Linked DNA regions of Homo sapiens. The protein of the gene in region 2 purifies or fractionates together with the protein of the main gene of each other region. This does not show direct contact. Each region holds a gene or a part of one and is shown on either strand. Other genes may lie near its edges.

Region 1 (7,085 bases), on a different chromosome or scaffold from region 2:
TGACCTCAGGTGATACATCTGCCTTGGCCTCCCAAAGTGCTGAGATTACAGGCATCAGCCACCACACCCAGACAATCTATCACTATTTTTAGAGACAGGATCTCGCTCTGTTGCCCAGGCTGGGGTGTATCACAGCTCTCTGCAGCCTTGACCTCGGGGCCGCAAGCAATCCTCCCGCCTCGGCCTCCCGAAGAGCTGGGACCACAGGCGTGCACTACCATGCCTGGGTAAGTTTTGAATTTGTTTTTTATGCAGACAGGGGTCTCACTATATTGCCCAGGCTGGTCTTGAACTCCTGGGCTCAAGCAGTCCTCCCATCTCAGCCCCCTAAAGTGTTGGGGTTACAGGCGTGAGTCACTGCACCCGGCCCTGCAGCCTTGTTTTTGGCCCTCACCTACCTTGGGGTATCCATGTTGTGGGTGCACCCCCGGTTATGTGACCTCTGCCCTCATCTGTCCTCTGGGAGACTGTGTTCTTTGCCCTCTATGAGGCAAGGCCCCAGTTCCTGGCTCCGTGGCCCCTCTGAGAGTCCCGTTGTGTTCTTCCTGCCCTGCTAGAGACCCACTCCCAGCAACACCTGGGTGCTGTCTGTCCCCTGCTGAGCTTTGCTCCATAGCCCTCAGGCTTGGGAGGTCCATCTTTGGGGCTGGGAGGAGCTGTCCCCCTGATCCTCTTGGGCGCTGTCAGGGAAGGGTAGAGGTGAGCCCCCATTTATAGGTGAGGAACAGGTTTGAAGAAAGAAGGGGCTGAGTTATGGATGCCCCAAAGTGTCTGCTGCCTCTTAGCTGTGAGCAGGAGCCGGCTGTTCTCGGTCCTCTCCCAGTCTTGATTTTTTCATCTGTAGAATGGGAATGACAACTCCTTTTTTTTTTTTTTTTTTTGAGACAGGGTCCCACTCTGTCACCCAGGCTGGAGTGCAGTGGTGCAGTCACAGCTCACTGCAGCCTTGACCTCCTGGGCTCAAGCGACCCTTCCACCTTAGCCTCCTGAGTAGCTGGGACTACAGGTGTGAGGCCACTGCGCCCGCTAATTTTTTTTTTTTTTGAGACAGTTTCTCTCTTGTCACCCAGGCTGGAGTGCAGTGGCACGATCTCGGCTCACTGCAACCTCCGCCTCCTGGGTTCAAGCGATTCTCCTACCCCAGCCTCCTGAGTAGCTGGGATTACAGGCATGCGCCACCAGGCCCGGCTAATTTTTTTTGTATTTTTAGTAGAGACGGGGTTTCTTCATATTGGTCAGGCTGGTCTCGAACTCTCGACCTCAGGTCATCCGCCTGCCTCGGCCTCCCAAAGTGCTGGGATTACAGGCGTGAGCCACCATGACTGGCCTCCAGCTAATTTTTTTTTTTGAGATGGAGTTTTTGCTCTTGTCGCCCAGGTTGAAGTACAATGTTCGATCTCAACTCACTGCAACCTCCACCTCCCAGATTCAAGCGATTCTCCTGCCTCAGCCTTCTGAGTAGCTGGGATTACAGGTGCCCACCACCTGGCCCGGCTAATTTTTTCTTGTATTTTTAGTAGAGACGGGATTTCACCACATTGGCCAGGCTAGTCTCGAACTCCTGACCTCAGGTGATCTGCCAGCCTTGGCCTCCCAAAGTGCTGGGATTACAGGCGTGAGCCACTGCACCCGGCCTGCAGCTCATTTTTTAATGTGGAGAGTTGGGGGTTTCATTACGTTGCCCCGGCTGGTCTTGAACTGATAGCTTCAAGTGATCCTCCTACCCTGGTCTCTCAAAGTGCTGGCATTCCAGGCGTGAGCCACCGCACCCGGTGGAGAATTTACAGGGTCATAGAGAGTAAGGAAGAGAGGACAGAGCCCTGTGCCGGGCGCTGCTGGAGGTTTGTCTGTGTTCACCGCAGGGGTCATGGGTTGCCTGAGTGTTCCTGGGGCTTAGGGGTGTGAATAGAAGCCTCATGGGTGGGGTGTGGGCTGTGTGCCCTCACCTGGGGTCTCCTGCCTGTGGAGTGGCTGGCATGACCTGCAGATGAGGCCACTCACTTGAAACCCTGATAATGGCTGGAGTGGGCAGACAATGGAGTCTCACAGTGAAGGTCCTGCCTGGGGCCATGTGGCCCACCCCTGGAGGCTGCTCACCCCTGCCCCCCATCGTTAGCCTCCCAGTTACAACTGTAAGCCCCTTGAGGGCAGGGCTGGTTGGTTCTGCTCTAAGCCCAGGAAACATCAGTGGAAGACGCATGGTTGGGTGTGGACCCTGAGGCCTCAAGACACACCTGTCCACAAGCCAATGCGGGGTTCCAGGACCCTGGGGGCTGCTGGGATGGTGGGGACCTGGGGGACCTGCCCAAGTGGCCCATCGTCCTAGAAGTTCAAAGACAACAGAGGCCCAGCAGGAGCAGGAACGCCGACCCCCAGCGCCCACCGAATGGTAGGGGTGCAGAGAGGGCTCTGGAGCCCAGGCCTAGGAGAGGGGCAAGTGTGTGCAGGGCACCCTGTACCCTCCCACACTTCGCTGAACCTCCTCTCTCTCGGCTCCGCTCTGTCCAGCCACGTAGAGTGGGCTTACTGGGGCCCAGGGAGGGCTCAGCTGGCTTAACCAAGCATGGTTGAGCCCAGGCGCAGTGCGGGCGACCCAGGGAACAGTGGTCAGCCTCAGGGCGTCAGCTGGGGTTGCAGGTGGGCGGGGGATGGGGCTAGAGAAGCCCCGAATCGGGTCAGGGCCTCTGTCCATGCCCAACCCAGAGCAGGAGGTCGCCGCAGGCCAAAGCAGCTCCGCCCCCTGGAGGCAGCTCCGGCCACTGCGCAGTCCCCGCCGCCCCGCCGGAGCTGGGAAGGGGCGGGAGCGCGGTCGCGACCGAGGGGGGCCGCCCAGTTTCTGTGCCCCCGCCGCCTTGGGCCTGCGAACTGGGCCATCCGCGTCCCTGGTGTCCCCCCTAATATTTAACAAGTTGGCCTGGACGTCCTCGCGGCCGGGAGGCCCGAATACCTGGCCTCAGTTTTCCCGTCCGAACCCCAAGAATCGATGCCTGGGAATGGAAAGAGAAGCCCCGGACCCCGGTGTCCCAGCAGGGCGGGGAACCTCTGACCCGCTCAGGCGCCCCCAGCCCAGCCCAGCCCTTTGCGTTCGGCCCCCTCTTCCCGTCCCCCTATCCCGACCCTCTGGGACCCAACCGGCCCTCCCCACCCCCAGTGGGGCGCGCTCTAGTAGCTCCGGAACTGGGTGCAAAAAGAGGAACGAACGCAGCCTTGCCCCACCCTCCCGGGCCCCGCCGCGGGCGCGGGATACCGGGTGTCTCGGCCGGGAGGCTCCGAGGGGCTCTGTGAGCGGCGAGGGGGAACCCCAGAGAAGAGGACGAGCAGATGCCTGAGTGCGGGGTCAAAGCAGGGCCCCAGGCCGGGAGAAGAGGGGGGAAGGGTCGCGCACGTGGCCTGGGGGCGGGGCCGGCCGCTTCCGCACCCCTCCAACCCCGGCCACGTGGGGATCGGAGCCCTCCTCCATCGCGAACGGGGGCGCGCCCGGGGCCAGGAGGGAAGCATCCGGGGAGGGGGCGGGCTCCCGCCGGCCGCGCGCCCCGGCGTGGGGTGGGCGCGCCAGCGAGGAGGCGGGGCGCGCTCTGGGAGGGAGGGGCGTGCCGGGATGGGGCGGGGCGCGCTCTCGGAAGGAGGGGCGTGCCGGAGAGGGGGCGGGGTCCTCGGCCTCCCGCCCCGGCTTGAGGGGGTGGTGCTCCGGGAAAGGGTACGGGGGCGCGCGCTGGAGTGGGGCGCGCCGGGAGGGGGCGGGGCTCCCGGCCTTGCACCCTAGCGCGGAGAAGGCGCGCTCCGGGCCTAAGACGCTAGGCGCTGGCGGAGGCCGGAGTGGGCGCGCCGGGGGGCGGGTTCCTCCGGCCCGAGCCCCGCCCCCGGCGGCCGCGCGCGGCTCGGAGAGTGGTGGAGGGCGCGCCGGGCGGGGGGCGTGGCTGCGGCGCCCCGAGGGGGCGTCCTCCGGGCGGGGCGGGCTGTGGCCGCCCCCGCGGGCTCCGGTGCGTCAGGACGCGTCAGGCGGGGCGGGGCAGGCCGAGCGCGGGCGTCGGCGGCGGCGCGCGCCGGGCCTCCTCCTCCTCCTCCTCCGCCTCCCGCACTCGAGCAGCCGCCGCCGGCCGGACGGACGCCGCTCCCGCCGCCTCCGCTCCGCCCGCCGCGCCGCGCGCCCTTGCTCGGCATGTCGGCGGCCGTGGCGTGCGTGGATTACTTCGCCGCCGACGTGCTCATGGCCATCTCTTCGGGCGCCGTGGTGCACCGCGGGCGGCCCGGCCCCGAGGGCGCGGGCCCCGCCGCCGGCCTGGATGTGCGCGCGGCGCGCCGCGAGGCCGCCTCACCCGGGACCCCGGGGCCACCCCCGCCGCCCCCCGCCGCTTCTGGCCCGGGCCCCGGCGCCGCCGCGGCGCCCCACCTGCTGGCCGCCAGCATCCTGGCCGACCTGCGCGGCGGACCCGGAGCCGCCCCGGGGGGCGCCTCGCCCGCCTCCTCCTCCTCAGCCGCCTCGTCCCCGTCCTCGGGCCGCGCCCCCGGCGCCGCGCCCTCCGCCGCCGCCAAGAGCCACCGCTGTCCCTTCCCGGACTGCGCCAAAGCCTACTACAAGTCCTCGCACCTAAAGTCGCACCTGCGGACGCACACAGGTGAGTGCAGCCGCGATCCCGGCCCTTGCGGGGGCGGCCGCCTGAGACCCCTCCCCCGCCAGGACCCCGAAACTGCGTGGCGCGTGGGGGGCGGGGAGGGGGGCGCGCCCGGGCCGCCGCCGCGCCGGCCGGCAGGGCGGGGCCTCGGTGGGTGGGGCGCGCGCGGGGGGCGTGGCGGCCACGCGGTCGGGCGGCGAGCGGATGGCCGCCCCGGCGGCAGTGGCGGGGGCTCCGGGGGCCCAGCGAGGTCTGCGGGCGGGATTGAGACTCCTGGGCAGACCACCTCTCTCCCTTTCTGGGCCTTGTTCCGTTTTTTTTTTTTTCTTTTGCGTTCTGGTCTGGGCGGTGGGCACCGTGGTTGGAGCATCCGGCTCTGGGGTTCTGGGTTCTCCCCCTCCCCCAGCCTCAGTTTCCTTATCTGTGAAAATGGAGGAGGAACCGCGTCGCCGCCGCCGGGGTGGCCGCGCGGATTCTCCCCAGAGGTCGGCAGAGCACCTGGCGTGGGGCCAGGATGGGGGGAGCCCGGCACGTTTTCTCTGCGTTCTCTGTATTTTAACGAGGGGGAGGGCGAGGCTAGGAGCGCGGGTTGGGGCCTGAGTCTGGGCGGGGGAACTTCATAGTATTGGAGGACCCTCGAGGGGCTCGGGTCCACACTGCTGTATTTCCCTGGCGTGTTTGTTCACCCCTACCTGGCGGGCGATTCGGGAAGGTGCGCGTAGTTGGAGCGCTTCGGCTACACCAACGCCCCTCCTAGCGCAGTCCCCGGGGCGGCGAGGGGAACCGGGAGCCTGGTGGGCCTGGCTGTATTTTTTCACTCCGTCCCCTCCTAGGGTTCCACTTTCTGGACTGGGAGTTTGGACTGGGCAACAGGGGACGGTGGGCCTTGATGGCCGGCCCTGGTTTGGGCATTAGAGGTGCTTGTCCCTTCCGGGGAGGGTGGGGGGCTGGGGGAAAGCTGTGCGGCTGCCCTTGGGCTTGGCATTCTGGCCTTGCCACCAAACAGAAGACCTCTACCCGATCTGGGTCTCAATTTTCTCATTTCTATCAAGAGTGCGATGCTGCCTCTATTTCATAGCCATAGCGGTGGCCGCTTTGGGCAGCTGGACACTCCAAGGAGGCTTGGTCCGTGGGCTCGGATTGTAGGGACACGTGGAGCAGCCGAAGGGAAGTGGGCCGTCCAGAGTGGTGGGGCTGAGATGAGCAGGGGCCGCGAATGCCTTGCGGAAGAATTGAGGGTCCATCTTTGGGGTATGGGGAGCCGCGCTGGGACGCCTGAGGGTGGAGAGCAGGAGGGCGGGTGGGGGCGGTGGTGTGTAGCCTGCCGGCCGCCCCCTCTCTGTTCTGCACTCTTTTCACCCCTCGCTCAGTCCCTGTCCTGGTCCCAGGGGCCTGGAGGCTCTGCCCACCTTGAGACACAGACGGGAACCGAGGGCGTCAAGACAGGACTTGGGTGGGGTCTGCGTTTTCTGCGAGGAGCCACACATCCTCGGCGGAGGGGTCCCAGGGTGTTACCTCTTTTTGAGGGCAATGGGGTCCGTGTATCTCCGCGGGGAGGGACATTGGGGGTCTGTGAAGATGGCGAGGCAGCGTTGGGAACAGAAAGGGAGGTGCCTCTCCGGGCGGTGGGCAGGGGTCCAGGAGTGCCCTGGCTTTTTGGGGGTAAGTTGGGCGATCTGAACAGACGGGGCTGAAGTGGGAGCCTGTTGGGAAAGCGACTCCCACCTGTCTACCCAGGTCATTCTTTTCTTGCCAGATGGCGTGGCCTGAGAGCTCCATTTGGGTTTTCTGAGTTTCTGGGTTAAGTGGACGGGATGGCCACCTCCCTGAGTGGCACCCAAGAGGCGCTTCCATAGGCCCCCGGGTATTGGGGCAGCGGTCCCTAAGCCAGCAGGGAGGGGAGGGATGGGTTTGGAGTCCTGGGAAGGCAGTATTGTTATCCCGGGATTGCAGTAAGAAACAGGCCTGGGGGTGCCCAGTCGGGCATCCCCAGGGGTGGATGCAGTTGTGCTGATGGCGCGCCACCGTCTACCCTGTGTGGTGGGGGAGGGCAGGGCGGATCTCCTGGCACCCTCCCCCACCCCTTGAGCCTGCTGACGTCCCATTCCAAAGCCCCCTTTACAGTAACGATTTGGGGACTGGGAGGGCAGTCCCAGGCCCAGGCACCTTGGATTCGGTTTCCAAAGGGTTTTGGATACTTGTGGCTTTCCAGGCTCCTCTTCCGGGCCTCCCCAGCCCCCAGGACCACCAAGGGGTCTGTGTAAACGGCCTCTTTTAGTGGAAGGTGGTCTGGTTTTTCAGCCCCCGGAGGAGGGAGGGAATGGCTGCCGTTAAGCTGGTTTTGGGGGACAGGAAGGCCATGCGTTTTTTTGGGAGGGAGCCCCATTGCAGGGCTGTCCCTGAATGGAGTGGAGGCCGGGAAAGATCCGCAGACGAACCCGAGTCACCGGTGGCTGCAGGGCTGTCCCGGGG
Region 2 (7,022 bases):
TGAGCTGTGGTTGGGCTGTAGAATCGTTTTAAAGAGATCTATAATAAATTTGAAGATAGGTGAAGAGTCAATGGTATTAAACAGTAGGAAACTTTTTTAAAAGGGGGACTTCCAAGCTAAGAAGGTGGAGAAAGATGATCCTAAAGGAGATAGTGGTGTTTTCTTGAGAGAAGGGAGCCTGGCCACAATAAATCTGAGACCCAGCTCTGAAAAAGGAGTTGGCACGGTTGAATAGAATACACCTCTGGCAGAAACTCTGAAATTCTGAATTTCAGTTTGTTGTTGTCTAGTAGAAGCCTCAACTCTTCTTCAAACAATAAAATACTATGGTCCATTAATGATGAAGTTATATATCACTAATAATGAAGTTAAAGATCTAATTATTCTGAACAAGAATAGAACCTTTTATATAGTTGAGTAAATAAGATACACATGTGCCCACGCACATGCGCACGTGCACACACACAAACACACACACACACACATATCAAGTGCCATGTCTAGCCAATAAAATTTTAGTATCTAATAGTCTGTAGATTTTAGGTCTCTGCATGACTAATGGATGTCAGCTATACAAGTAATGATTTAGTTCTTGGTCATGTTATAAAAATTAGGGGAAAATAATCACATGCTAAAGATTACTTCATTTTTAACTAATAATCTATTTCTACTTATTTCACATACAAGGTCAGCCTTTTTATTTGTCACAGCCTCTTATAGAAAATTAAAGCAGAATGAAAACGAATGGTGGAGAAATTTCTTCTATTTATTACCAGTAAGCTAACTGCTGACAGTGATGAAAGGCAGGAAAACACCAGACAGGGCATATCACGCAAAAAGCACAACCATCTGGGATGAGTGGAGGCAGAGAGGGAAACGAGAAATCCACAGAACAGTGAGAAATCCAGAAGGTGTCACAGTGCAATCACTGATGCTCAAAACCGGTGAACCTGAATCCTCAAGAGTTCATTTGGTTCATGTTACTTAAAAAGGTAACAATACAGTATGTTTTAGTATACATGTAGAACATGACATAAAGTAGTTAAAATTATGGCTGCTGCTGATTTCCAAATTTTTAGAGTCAAGATAAATAAACCAACTATCCTTTTAGTTTCCTTCCCCCTAACTTTCTTCCAGTCAATGACTAAGCCTGTTCTGAAAAGAAGTTTGAAACAAAAGAACTGCTCAGGAAACCTACGTCTAGGAACAGCAATCATTGTTTAAAGTTGGAAGAACGTGAGCAAAACTGAAGTCTAGATAATTTACTTGACTTGAAAAACTCTAATTTACTTTCAAGGCCATTTCAACAATTCCTTCCTTTCCTAGCTTCCTTTCATTTCACTACAACAAGCCATACAGTCCTTTAGACTAGTGCTTCTCAAAGTGTGGAACCCCAATCAGCAGTATCAGCATCACCTAAAACTTCTAAGAAATGCAGATTCTCAGGGTGCGCCCCAGACCTACTGATTCCGAAACTCTGAGGGTGGGACCCACAATCTGTGATACACCAACCTCTCCAGGTGACTCTGATGCTTGCTAAAGTCTGAAAACTGCTGCTTCGGGTAACAGGAACAGAAAACACACAAGAGATCTGATTTATAGAACAAGACAATTCTTAAATCTGAAGTGACAAAGGGGGATAGAGGAGTCTATTGTGTAAATAGGGCCTCATTAGCTTAATTTCTAGATTAAGGCCTAGATATCACACTTGGCAACCTCTAATAAGTGGTATATAAAGCTGGTACCTTCCAGGTGTTTTAGGAGTGCCCTACTGCTATTTCCATGAGCAGATATCAGAATGGTTTTGCCACGTAATACTTCGGGAGCAATCCTTTCATTCCAATAGGGAAGGAGTCTCTCCAGAACATCCTTTAAGCTTTCCGACCGTGGCAGTTGATCCAAGGGCACATCGCATACTTTATACCTCCGGTCGTTGTAGATTTCTTGGTAGTAAGGATGAGACTCCTCAATGGGAGGCGGGGTTACATTGTAGCTTCTTCTCCAGAGCCTCACTTGTTCTTCACCATGATTCAAAGCCATCTGCTCCCTGTTGAGACCGATCAAGGCCCCATAGTGACGCTCATTTAGACGCCAGGAGCTTTCCACAGGCACCCATTCCTGGCCTAGCTCTTCCAGGATCAGCCAGGCTGTGTGAATGGACCGATTAAGGACAGATGTGAATACAAGATCAAACTCAAAGTTTAACGCTTTGAGTTGCTTCCCACAGTTCCGAGCTTCCTCCATTCCTTCGCTGTTGAGTTTCTGATCCACCCAGCTACAAAAACGGTTCTCCTTATTCCAAGCACCCTCTCCATGTCTTAACATAATAAGTTTGTACTTGGACATACTGATGGCTGAACTTCCCAGGCGTTTTCAAATGGGCTAATATTCAAGGACAGCAATACATCTAGAAAGACAAGAACAACAAGTCTAAGTTATATTCAACTGACAATCTAGGAATAGAAACATCGCTTTACAACACCCAATTTCTAAAAGAAACTGAAATCCCTTTGAACAGTCAGAAATGTGATAACTCATACACTGTGACACATACAGGCATATTCTATAGATATTAATAATTCATTACAGGGAATCTAGTTGACTTAAATTTTCTGATGTTTGGATAGCATGTTAATTGCATGACATAAAATAACAAAACACTTCATTCTAATGGCATGCTGTGTTTCTGCCAGATACAAAGGCAATTTATGCTTACAGTAGAAAGGATTTAATAGAATGAGTTACAGACGTCTGAAAGAATGACTAGTGGCTGGGAACTCCCAGCTCCCAGCAGCTGACTCTACACTGAAGGCATCCTTTTCACTTTGTTTTCCTGTGGTGGAAAAAGAAGTATTTACCAGTCTCACATTCTTATTATAGAAGTTATTAAACATGTTATTTCAATGCACCACTGCATATATCTGATATGTATCACTGGCTGGTGGCAACTAGCTCTTCAATGCCACAGGCTACAACACACAAGAAAATCTAAGGTATGCAAAACACATCAGTTCAACATTCAGACAAATTAAAAGTGCTTTAAAGAGACATTAACACCAAATATGGTACGTACCTAAATAATCTTGCACCTACCTCAAGATAGAGTTTTCAGCAGGAATAAATCCAGATGCAAAATAAGCTATCAAATGCAAGCAGCTGAGGGATGCTGCCTGTACAAACAGATCTGGTAGGCAGGAGTGAGAGGAACCACACTGATAAAGAGGCCCCACCTCCTCCTCCCCAGCCCTCCAGATATCCTACACACACCAGCTACGTCTTAGCAGGGGGAGAATCTAGTAAAGGGAGACCAGCAACTCTCAAGCTATGCTGAACTCCTTACATTTAAGCTGCTGGCCTGAAGATCTGCTGGGCCCACTCCATCCTCGGAGAATCTGCTGACATGGCTGCTCAGCCCGCCTCTCTCTCTCCTTGTGGTGGACACATCTGCACTGACACATGCTTGGTTTACACGCCCGGCCTCTCCATCTCTCCTCCAGTGTTTTGCACACTGGGTTGTAAAGATTATACGAGCACTACAGCCTGGTCTTCTGCCACTCTTGGCAACTTCCATTAACTGGAGATTTTCTCTCCCACTTAAACTGTGAGTCACCCACAGTAAAATAACAATCAATGGCAAAATTGATTGGAATCTAGATCTAGTTTCTACCTTTCTTTAGTAATTCCTAGAGATTCTGAAGGGAAAACAGTCTTTAAAATAAGGCTTTATATTTCAATGGAAGGCAAACAGAGGACTTAAGGAAAGAAATCAAATTGAGGTGATTTGCAAGTATCGTCATGTGTTGCTTAATGAAGGGAATATGTCCTGGCAAATGCATCATTAGGTGATTTTGTCGTGCAAACAACATAGAATGTACTTACACAAACCTAGATGGTATACATATTGTTACTTATGTTTTTTCATATGGAAAGCCAAGTATCCCAGCACAATTACTGAATATCAGTCATTTCCCCTACTCGATCTGCAATGCCAATGTCAAGTGCCACATATCAGATGTCTATATATGCTCCATTACCATCTTACAGGGCCACCATCATTTACACGATCCATGCTTGACTGAAACATCATTAGGTGGTGCATGACTGAAGTTGAAAGGCTACAGCAGTTAGGATGATGATTTTCCTTTCTTGTTAAGTACCAGGTTGCTGTGCATGTGCAGCAGGGAAGTGCCAGGGAACCAGAAGAGCCTGGGCTCAGGACCCAGATTAAAGCATCCCACAGAGCTGAGAATTCCCAAGGAGGAAGCCCAATGTCTCTGTCCTTAGCCTAGAAGAGGCATCAGGGTGGCAGAACAGAGAAGGGAACAAAAGGTATCTAGGCAGTGTTTTGCCAGATGACTGCCTGTGCCCAGGGGCAGAATAGTCATGAATCTAACAAAGTTCAAGCTTCAGAGCCCCTCACCTGTGAGAAACCAGGTGATGAACACACACACACACACACACACACACACACACACACACACGGAGGGGTGTGTGTAAGTGTGTTAATTTGCAAATGGAAGATATTTTTGCAGTGTTTCTTTACAAAGCCCCAATCCACCAAGTAGTAGAAGCCTCAGCTCCATCAAAAACTGTATCTACCCTTTGTAACCATTGATCATTTTGTTTTGTTATTGGTAGTGGAGGAGGGGGATGGAGAAAAAAGAAGCTATCAACTGTTCCTCTACCTTCACCCTCAGTTTATCTTGTCAAGTGAGAAACCTCCATAAGCTAATGAAGCCATTCTCTCTTCAGTTAAAGAAGGGCATGGTTAGACAAATTTTGTAGACAGAAGCACCTTTCCACCATCTTTTGATTATAAACTATATCAAGGGGACAAAACAATGTAGTAATAGCAACATGGACACTCAGGCACCCACCACCAAGCTTTGTGGTATCTTATTCTCCTATATTTGCTTACTGCATTAAAACAAAGTTCTGTTTTCTTTTTACTAAAAAAAAAATACACACACACACACACCAGAACAGAGGAACAGTACTGCAGTCACAAAAACTATGCAAATATGCATCCTTCCCTCACTCTGAAGCACAGGAATACATTTACGCAGGTGAATACATGATAAAGTACTAAACTAGTATGTCTATCTCAAGAAAACAAAAGGTCACTTTCCTCTCTCCTCCCTAGTACTATCAACGGACTTTTCCCACTTAACTGCTGGATACTTACAAAGAAACTGCTGAGGATTAGCTTGCAAACATAGAAACTTCAGTCAACATCCACAGGAGCTGATTTACCCAGTGTTTACCAAGAAACACACAACGCTGTAGCCAGTGTGATTTAAAGTTTAAGGCATGGATTGCAAACTCAAATGCCTGCAATGGGCAGGCAGCTGTGTGAAGCAGAGTGCAGCTGGACTATGCAGAGTGATGGGCACAGTGACCTGCAAGGACCATGCATGCTTCTTTGAAGGAGGCAACTCTTGTGTAAACAGAAAGTTTTCCGATAACCTCATCTCACTGAGCCAACAGCACTGTTCTTAGAACTTTTCTGGAAAACAAAAAGAAGATGGGATTGCTGACATCGAAGACTAGGATGAATGCAAGACTTAGAGTCAGACCACAGAGAAACTTTGAGTAAATAAATGTCTTTTTTAAAAAAGCTAAAACAATCATTTCAAAACCTCCTAAAAATTCATGTAAAAAATCAAAGGAGTACCTACTACTTAGCTCCAGCCCATTGCCCTGTGATACTGAGCAACTGAGGTTTCTAGATCTTCCAATTAAAAAAAAAATGAAAACGTGTATTTTTATCTGATATCTGATTTAAATATTAGCAACTAATGTATATTTGTAAAATGTGAGTGAAACAAAACATTTCTTCTGCAGGCTAGATCGTGGCTGCTAGCTTATGACCTCTGACTTAAAGGGAAACCTCCCCTAGGCCACAGATAAATGGTACAGCCACTATACCCCAGGAGACGGTCAGAACCCAAGCGTCTGGACCACTTAACCAGCTTTCCTGTTATTGCCCAACACAGCCTTTCAAAGGACAGACCCTCTAATCCCCATAATGCTCTGGGCTTCCTTCTCCCTGACCCACCTTTACAGCCCTCCCTCACCAAACCATTTGCTGGTGCCCTGCAGAATTCCTAGCTCTGTCCTCAAACTCCCACTCAGCTTTGAGTGTCAATTGCACTGAAAAAGATCTGAACTGAAAACGACCTCTTCCCAGGTGACACTGCTTCTCTCTCTAGTGGGGGGTGCTCATGCCTCATACCCTAGGGTTAGGTTCAGGTGATGGGCAGCGTCCTGCTTCCTCCACTGACCAAATCGCCCCTCCCCCACCATCCTAGGGAGTTGGGGAGCTTCAATGTTGAAAGTCTTGCTATATTCAGTTGAAGTTCTCTTGCCCTCATTTATTAACTGCAAACTAACAATTAAACTCCTTGAAAATTGAGTATCTTATTTTAAAACCTCAATTCTTCCTACTGGTCTTAGAAAATGTTCAGAATCCTTCATGTGACCTGCAAGGCTTTCGTTTTATTTCCTTGAGCATGTCAGGTTCTTTCTTGCCTCAGTAGTTTTGCACACACTGTACCCTATGCAGAACACTCACCCTTCATCTCTTCTCTCCATTGCCACTTCAGTCTCACCCTGCTTTAGGTTAAGCTCTAGTCATCCTTTAGATCAGTTGTGTCCAATCAAGATATAATGCGAGGCACAATGAAGTTTTAAATTTTCTACAAGCCACATGAATCCTATAGGTCCAAAAGCTATCATTCAGACATGGAGTCAAAGGAGATCATTTTGGAACTTTAAGGTGTAACAACTGCTCTATTGGATTTTGGACTTGCATGGGGCCTGCTGTAGCCCCTTTGTTTTGGCCAATTTCTCCCATTTGGAACAGGTATATTTACCCAATGCCTGTAGCCCCACTGTATCTAGGAAGTAACTAACTTGCTTTCAATTTTCTAGGCTCATAGGCAGAGAGGGCTTGCCTCGTCTCAGATGAGACTTTGGATTTGGACTTTTGGGTTGATGCTGAAATGAGCTAAGACTTTGGG
Region 3 (7,043 bases), on a different chromosome or scaffold from region 2:
GGCATCAAAGTGGTACTCCGTCTAAAAAAAAAAAATAATAACAATAATAATAATAATGGGCAAAGGCTCCAAACAGGCTTTTCTCTAAAGAAGATATACAAATGGCTAATATATGAGAAGATGCTCAACATCATTAGTCACCAGGGAAATGCAAATCAAAACCACAATGAGATATCACTTCACACCACCAGGATGGACATAATAAAACAAACAAAAAACAGATAATAGCAAGTGCTGGTGAGGATGAGGAGAAACTGGAACCCTCATACACTGCTGAGGGGAATGTAAAATGGTGCAGCCATTTTTGGAAACCAGCCTGGCAGTTCCTCAAAAGGTTAAATGTAGAGTTACCCTATGACCCAGCAATTCCACTACTAGCTATATGCCTGGAAGAAAGGAAAACACATGTCCACATAAAAATGTGTACATGAATGTTACAGTTGCATTATTCATGAAAGCCAAAACGTTTCGATGGATATTCAAAACAGCCCAAATATCCATCAATGGATGAATGAATAAGTACAATGTGGTGCATGTATAAAATGGAATATTATTTGGCAGTAAAAAAAATCTATGCTACAACATGAATGAACCTTGAAGAAATTATGCTCGGTAAAAGAAGCCAGACCCAAAAGACCACATATTATATGATTCCATTTACATGAAATTACTTAGAGTCTAGAGAATCTACAGAGTAGGAAAATCTATGGAGACAGAACGTAGATTTGTGGTTATCTCGGGATTGGGGTGGGGAAGGGGAGAATGAGAATTGACTACTAGTGGGTATGTGCTTTATGGGGTGATGAAAATGTCCTAAAAGGAATTTTCATGAGGGTTGCACAACTTTGTGATCACACTAAAGCCACTGAACTGTATATTTTTTTTTTTGTTTTGTTTTGTTTTTTTGAGACGGAGTCTCGCTCTGTCGCCCAGGCTGGAGTGCAGTGGCGTGATCTCACTGCAAGCTCCGCCTCCCGGGTTCACGCCATTCTCCTGCCTCAGCCTCCGGAGTAGCTGGGACTACAGGCGCCTGCCACCACGCCTGGCTAATTTTTTGTATTTTTAGTAGAGACGGGGTTTCACCGTGTTAGCCAGGATGGTCTCGATCTCCTGACCTCGTGATCCGCCCTCCTTGGCCTCCCAAAGTGCTGGGATAACAGGCGTGAGCCACCGCGCCCGGCCGAAATGTACACTTTAAATGGGTAAATTGCACGGTATGTGAATTATCTCAATAAAGTTGTTAAATATTCAGAAAAAGGTAAATTGAGTCTATGAACATATGAACAGCAGTTCCCCAATGTCACTATCCCTAAGAATCACCCGGAGTTTTTTTTTTGTTTTTGTTTTTTAGACGGAGTATCGCTCTTGTCGGCCAGGCTGGAGTGCAGTGGCGCGACCTTGGGTCACTGCAACCTCTGCCTCCCGGGTTCAAGCCTTTCTCCTGTCTCAGCCTCCCAAGTAGCTGGGATTACAAGCGTGCACCACCACACCCGGCTAATTTTGTATTTTTAGTTGAGACGGGGTTTCTCCATGTTGGTCAGGCTGGTCTCGAACTCCCGACCTCAGGTGATCCACCCTCCTTGGCCTCCCAAAGTGCTGGGATTACAGGCGTGAGCCACCGCGCCGGCCCCGACTAATTTTTGTATTTTTTTTTTTTTTTTTTTAGTAGAGACGGGGTTTCACCATGTTAGTCAGAATGGTCTCTATCTCCTGACCTTGTGATCTGCCTGCCTCGGCCTCCCAAAGTGCTAGGATTACAGGCGTGAACCACCGCGCCCGGCCTGTGTTGCTTTAAGCCACCTTATTTGTTAGGACAGCAACAGGAAACTAATACAAGGTTCAATCCCTCACTGACGATGTTCTGGACGACAGGACCCCTGCCTGGTGCCTCATGGTGGACCCACAGAATCATCTTCATACGCACGGGGGAGAAACATCACTAATGTCCACCAGCACCGGCATCCTCAGCCGCGAGGACAAATCCCTTACCCTCCCAGCAGGTTTCATCTGCGTAACGGAAATAGTGGTGAATTTATCAGGGGCTGTTAATAGATGACAGGCAAGGGTGAAGTCATCGCAAAAGTTCCCAGACGATATGGACAGCTGCTCCCCAATAATTACTGCTCCACGCAGTCCACAGCGGGGCTGTTATTGACCCCGACAGGATGACGGGACACTAAGGTGTGCAGTACACGTCCTCACAGGGAGATTTAAAAAACCGGCAGTGACCCCTGCCCCAAGAAGGCCAAGAACTGCTACTCTAAGGTGTGCAGCGCGGAGCTTCCCCACCATGGCAATTTCAGCCATGGCAGCTCCTTCCCCTAATCACCAGGGCTCAGAATCTTTATTTCACTCCTTTACCCAATGCAATTGGCATCAAACGCGGGCTGGGCTGCGCCCAAATGGTCCCAGCTCCCCGGCTCTCTCCTCTCTCAAGAATACCCACACCCTGAGGCCCCGAGTGTCTCCCCCGCCCCAGTATCTCACGCCTCCAACTCGCTGCCGTCCCTGCAGGGACCTCCCGAGCTGCAACCGTGGGACGAGGCCGGCGGGGGTTGGGGGGTGCCGGGAAGGCAGCGCTGGGCGCGGCGGACACGGCCAGGGACCGGCGGGCGAGTGCGGACCTCCTTCGTGTGGGGGTGTTGAGGCTTTGGACAAGGGACTGGAGGGGGTGGGGAAGGAGGGGCGAGAGGCAAAGAGGGAATCGCGGGAGACCCCACAGGAGGCGGCCTGAGCACCAGGACGCGGACCCCTCCTCAGCACCCGCAGCCCTCGGGACCCCCGAGAGAGCCGGGCCGGGGACTCGTCCATGCCGAGGACGCAGGACCCTCCCCGCCCGCCAGGGCCCGTCCTCACCGACGACAGCGGTGCCCTCCCTCTCCGGCGACAGCGCCGCGGCGGGTCCCTCAGCCTCCGCGCCAAGGGCCCCAGCCTCAGCTCGCGCTGTTACCTCAAGCCGGGGTCACAGCGCGAGCATGCGCAGCAAGGCCGCGGGTGCCCTGTCTTCTGGCTGGGGCCGCTCCTCCGCGTCTTGCCCGTGCGGCGTAGAGCTGGCGTCCGGCCAATCGGAGGGCGGAGGCGGGGCCAAAATTCAGTAAGGGGGCGGGGACACCCGGGATTGAGTGTCGCCGTCAGGGGCGGAGCCTCGGGGGACCTGCGGCCTGGATCCGGGTTGCGGGCGAGGTTATCCCAGCACCAGTGGGTTGGGCTTCACTGCGACCCCCGGGCTTCCTCACGGATTTGACTCCGGCTCTCTGCGGGGAAAACTGGAGCATTTGTTTAAAGGTTTTGCTCTCCCCCGTCGCGATACCGAGCGTGCGGAGGGAAGGTGTTTAGGCTCATGGAAGCCACTGCCTTGCTTTAAGCTCTGCATCCTTGACGACGCAGCAGCCTCATCCGCGCCATTGGTCCAGCCCTCGTCTATTAGTTTAGCCCCTGCCCATTGGTCCAGCCCTCGCCCAATAGTCCCGCCCTCTCTCTGTAGTTCAGCCCCTGTCCATTCATCCTTTCTCGTTATTGGTCCAGCCCTGGCCCATTGGGCCCACCCGTGCCCACGGGCCCCGCCCTCTCCGTGCCCAACCACGTTCACCCGGCCCAAGGGGTGCCCGGGACACTCGCCATCCTCCAGCCACCCACTGCAGTGGGACTGGGCTGGGTCCGGGCACAGGGAGCTGTGGGGCCCTGGGCGCTGCTTTCCTGGGACACTTGGCTGCAGCGTCCAGAGCGGCCCCCGCACAGCCCCCTAGGCTCACCGCGGCTCTCCCAGCCCCGCGGGGTCGCCCCCACTACCCCGGCCACCTTGGTCCCCCTAAGCCTGGCTCCGCGCCCCGCCCCCCTCGCTCTAAAGCGGCCGCTGAATGTGCCACCGCCCCAGGGCTCCAGGGTCCAGGTCGAGATCCTCTGGGGCCTCCCGCACCTTCCGCCTTCTCACGTCCGAATGCCAGCGTCGCTGCACGCCCTTCCTCTGCCCTGCCCCTCCCGGCCCTGGCTCTGCAGGTCTCTGAATCCCACCGTGGACTCCGCTACCAAGGCTCCCGCTGCCCCCATCCCACTATCCTATCTCCCCGGGCATTGTCTGGTGTCATTCAAGGCCTTTGTGCTTTTTTTTTTTTTTTAGAAACGAGAATTGCGCTCTGTCGCTCAGGCTGGAGTGCAGTGGCGTGATCTCGGCTCGCTGCAACCTCTGCCTCCCGGGTTCAAGCAATTCTCATGCCTCAGCCTACTGAGTAGCCGGGATTACGGGCGCCCGCCACCACGCCCGGCTAATTTTTGTACTTTTAGTAGAGACGGGTTTCACCATGTTGGCCAGGCTGGTATTGAACTTCTGACCTCAGGTGATCCACCCGCCTCGGCTTCCTAAAGTGCTGGGATTACAAGAGTGAGCCACCGTGCCCAGCTACCTTTGTGCATTTATTTGCTGTTATCTATTAATCATTCACAGACTACTGGTTGTTTTTAACTTGATGATGTTATAAATATCTTTGTATATGAATCTCTGATGTCAAAGATTTTTTTTTTTTTTTTTTGAGATGGAGTCTCGCTCTGTCGCCCAGGCTGGAGTGCAGTGGCGTGATCTCTGCTTATTGCAACCTCCGCCTCCCGGGTTCAAGCGATTTTCCCGCCTCAGCCTCCCAAGTAGCTGAGATTACAGGCACCGGTAATCATGCTTAATTTTTATATTTTTGTAGAGATGGGATTTCACCATGTTGGCCAGGCTGGTATCAAACCGGAGTTACCTCCGGTGATCTGCCCACCTCGGCCTCCAAAAGTGCTGGGATTAGACATGTGAGCCACCTTGCCTGTCGAGATATTAAAGATTTTTTTTTTTTGAGACAGAGTCTCACTCTGTTGGCAAGACCGGAGTGCAGTAGCACGATCTCAGCTCACTGCAACCTCCGCCTCCTGGGTTCAAGTGGTTCTCCTGCCTCAGCCTCCCAAGTAGCTGAGATTACAGGCGCCTGCCACCGCACCCAGCTAATTTTTTTGTATTTTTAGTAGAGACGGAGTTTCACCATCTTGGCCAGGCTGGTCTTGAACTCCTGACCTCGTGATCCACCCGCCTCAGCCTCCCAAAGTGCTGGGATTACAGGTGTGAGCCACCGCACCCAGCCAAAGATTTCTTGAAAGTCTTAAAAGAGGTCAAAGGAGGCAAATATTTTTAAAAGCTTTTTAAACATGTAGCCAAATTGTCCCCAAGGAAGTGCACAAGCTTGGGGTTAGATGCTTGGGTTCAAGTCCCTGCTGTGTCAATTGCCAGCTGTGTGAATGAGCAATTACATCCCCTCTCTGTGCCTCAGTGTCTTCACCTGATAAATGGGGGTGATAACGCACCCACCTCCTACAGCCATTGTGAGAATTCACAGAGTATTGTCATGTGGACTGATAAGAGTCTTGGTTGTTTTCTGTTTCTTTTTGTTTTTGTTTGAAACAGAGTTTCACTCTTGTTGCCCAGGCTGGGGTGCAGTGGTGTGATCTCGGCTGACTGCAACCTCCACCTCCTGGGTTCAAGTGATTCTCCTGCCTCAGCCTCCCAAGTAGCTGGGATTACAGGTGCCCGCCACTAAGCCCGGCTAATTTTTTTTGTGTTTTTAGCAGAGACGGGGTTTCACTATGTTGTCCAGGCTGGTCTTGAACACCTGACCTTGTGATCCACCCATCTCGGCCTCCCAAAGTGTTGGGATTACAGGCATGAGCCACCGTGCCTGGTGAGTCTTGGTTTTAAAATTTATATTCCTTAGTCCAGCAATTCTCAAACTTTCTGGTCTCAGAACCACTTATGACACAGGATTTTTCAGTGCCCCTTAGTCAGCCAGAGACCTCCATGGCCAGCAGCACCCCTGTTCAGGCCTCCCTTGGCCTGGGCTCGGTGCAGGAGACACCCCACCCATTCCGCCATTTGTGTCATGTTACAGCTCTTTCAATCCCGCTGCCCCCCTTGGGTCCTCAGCTTCAGGGCTGGCCCAGCCCACTGCTATTTCCTCTTGCCTGGGCAGGTTCTGGGGGTGGGTGGAGGGCTACAGTGTTACAGCCTTTTTCCTACCAGTGGTAGACCCTCCAGAGTTCTTGTCCCACATCCAAGAAGAATGAGGTTATGCTGACAGCCAGTGGGTGAGCAGGGTGAAGAGTTTTATTGAGCTAACAAACAGCTCTCAGCGAAGAGGGGACCCTCTCAAAGTCGGGTAGTTCCCCCCGCCATGGTGTGTAGACCCCAAGTGTGGCTGAGTCTGAGGTTTTTATTGGCTCAGAATGGGGGAGTGCATGCTGATTGGTTTCTGAGTATGCAAAAAAGGCTTAAAAGGCACTCAAAATTGGGCATGACAGTGTAAACAACCAGTTAGGGAAGGGTAGGTGTATGTAAAATAGGTGAAATGTGGGGATCAGTCAGAGGAAAGTGGGCCACACGGGAAGAGAGGTTCTCAGTATGTTCCATGAATTTATCAGAGACTTGTAGCTTGGTTTTCAGGCTTTAAAATGTCTTTGGTTTGAAGGCCAGTTTCACCAGGGATGGGATCTGTCTCTGTCTGCCTGGGGATTTGTCTGCCTCCTGCCGCCATCATTTTCACTGTTAGTTATTGAGACGCTCAGAGAGATTTTAGTTATGTGGGTTACATCTATCAATATTTACTATATAGAAATTTAGGCTGGGTGCAGTGGCTCATGCCTGTAATCCCACCACTTTGAGAGGCCAAGGCAGGTGGATCACCTGAGGTCAGGAGTTTGAGACCAGCCTGGCCAACATGGTGAAACCCAGTCTCTACTAAAAATACAAAAATTAGCAGGGTGTGGTCGTCGTGGGCGACTGTAATCCCAGCTACGTGGGAGGCTTGAACCCGGGAGGCAGAGGTTGCAGTGAGACAAAACAATGCCACTGCACTCCAGCCTGGGCAACAGAGTGAGGAAAAAAAACAAGACGGCTGGGTGCAGTGGCTCACGCCTGTAATCCCAGCAGTTTGTGAGGCTGAAGCAGGCAGATCATGAGGTCAGGAGTTCGAGACTAGCCTGGCCAACATGGTGAAACCCCATCTCTACTAGAAATACAAAAA

Evidence for each region. Proteins that work in one complex are often made in the same cells at the same time.
Region 1: the proteins of BPGM (region 2) and KLF16 purify together in Homo sapiens (affinity purification with mass spectrometry; 3 studies listed by BioGRID and IntAct, with this or other methods). This does not show direct contact.
Region 3: the proteins of BPGM (region 2) and FLYWCH2 purify together in Homo sapiens (affinity purification with mass spectrometry; 3 studies listed by BioGRID and IntAct, with this or other methods). This does not show direct contact.

What each region holds. Positions count from the first base shown.
Region 1 is NC_000019.10:1,860,572-1,867,656, reverse strand, and holds the start of KLF16 (Krueppel-like factor 16), read left to right. Parts: upstream 1-4,077; 5' UTR 4,078-4,159; coding exon 4,160-4,616; intron 4,617-7,085. UniProt on the Homo sapiens protein: Transcription factor that binds GC and GT boxes and displaces Sp1 and Sp3 from these sequences. Modulates dopaminergic transmission in the brain.
Region 2 is NC_000007.14:134,656,832-134,663,853, reverse strand, and holds part of BPGM (bisphosphoglycerate mutase), read right to left. Parts: intron 5,761-7,022; exon of another isoform or gene 5,144-5,760; intron 3,190-5,143; exon of another isoform or gene 3,094-3,189; intron 2,800-3,093; exon of another isoform or gene 2,719-2,799; intron 2,408-2,718; 5' UTR 2,347-2,407; coding exon 1,746-2,346; intron 1-1,745. UniProt on the Homo sapiens protein: Plays a major role in regulating hemoglobin oxygen affinity by controlling the levels of its allosteric effector 2,3-bisphosphoglycerate (2,3-BPG). Also exhibits mutase (EC 5.4.2.11) activity.
Region 3 is NC_000016.10:2,879,180-2,886,222, reverse strand, and holds the start of FLYWCH2 (FLYWCH family member 2), read right to left. Parts: upstream 3,009-7,043; 5' UTR 2,857-3,008; intron 1-2,856.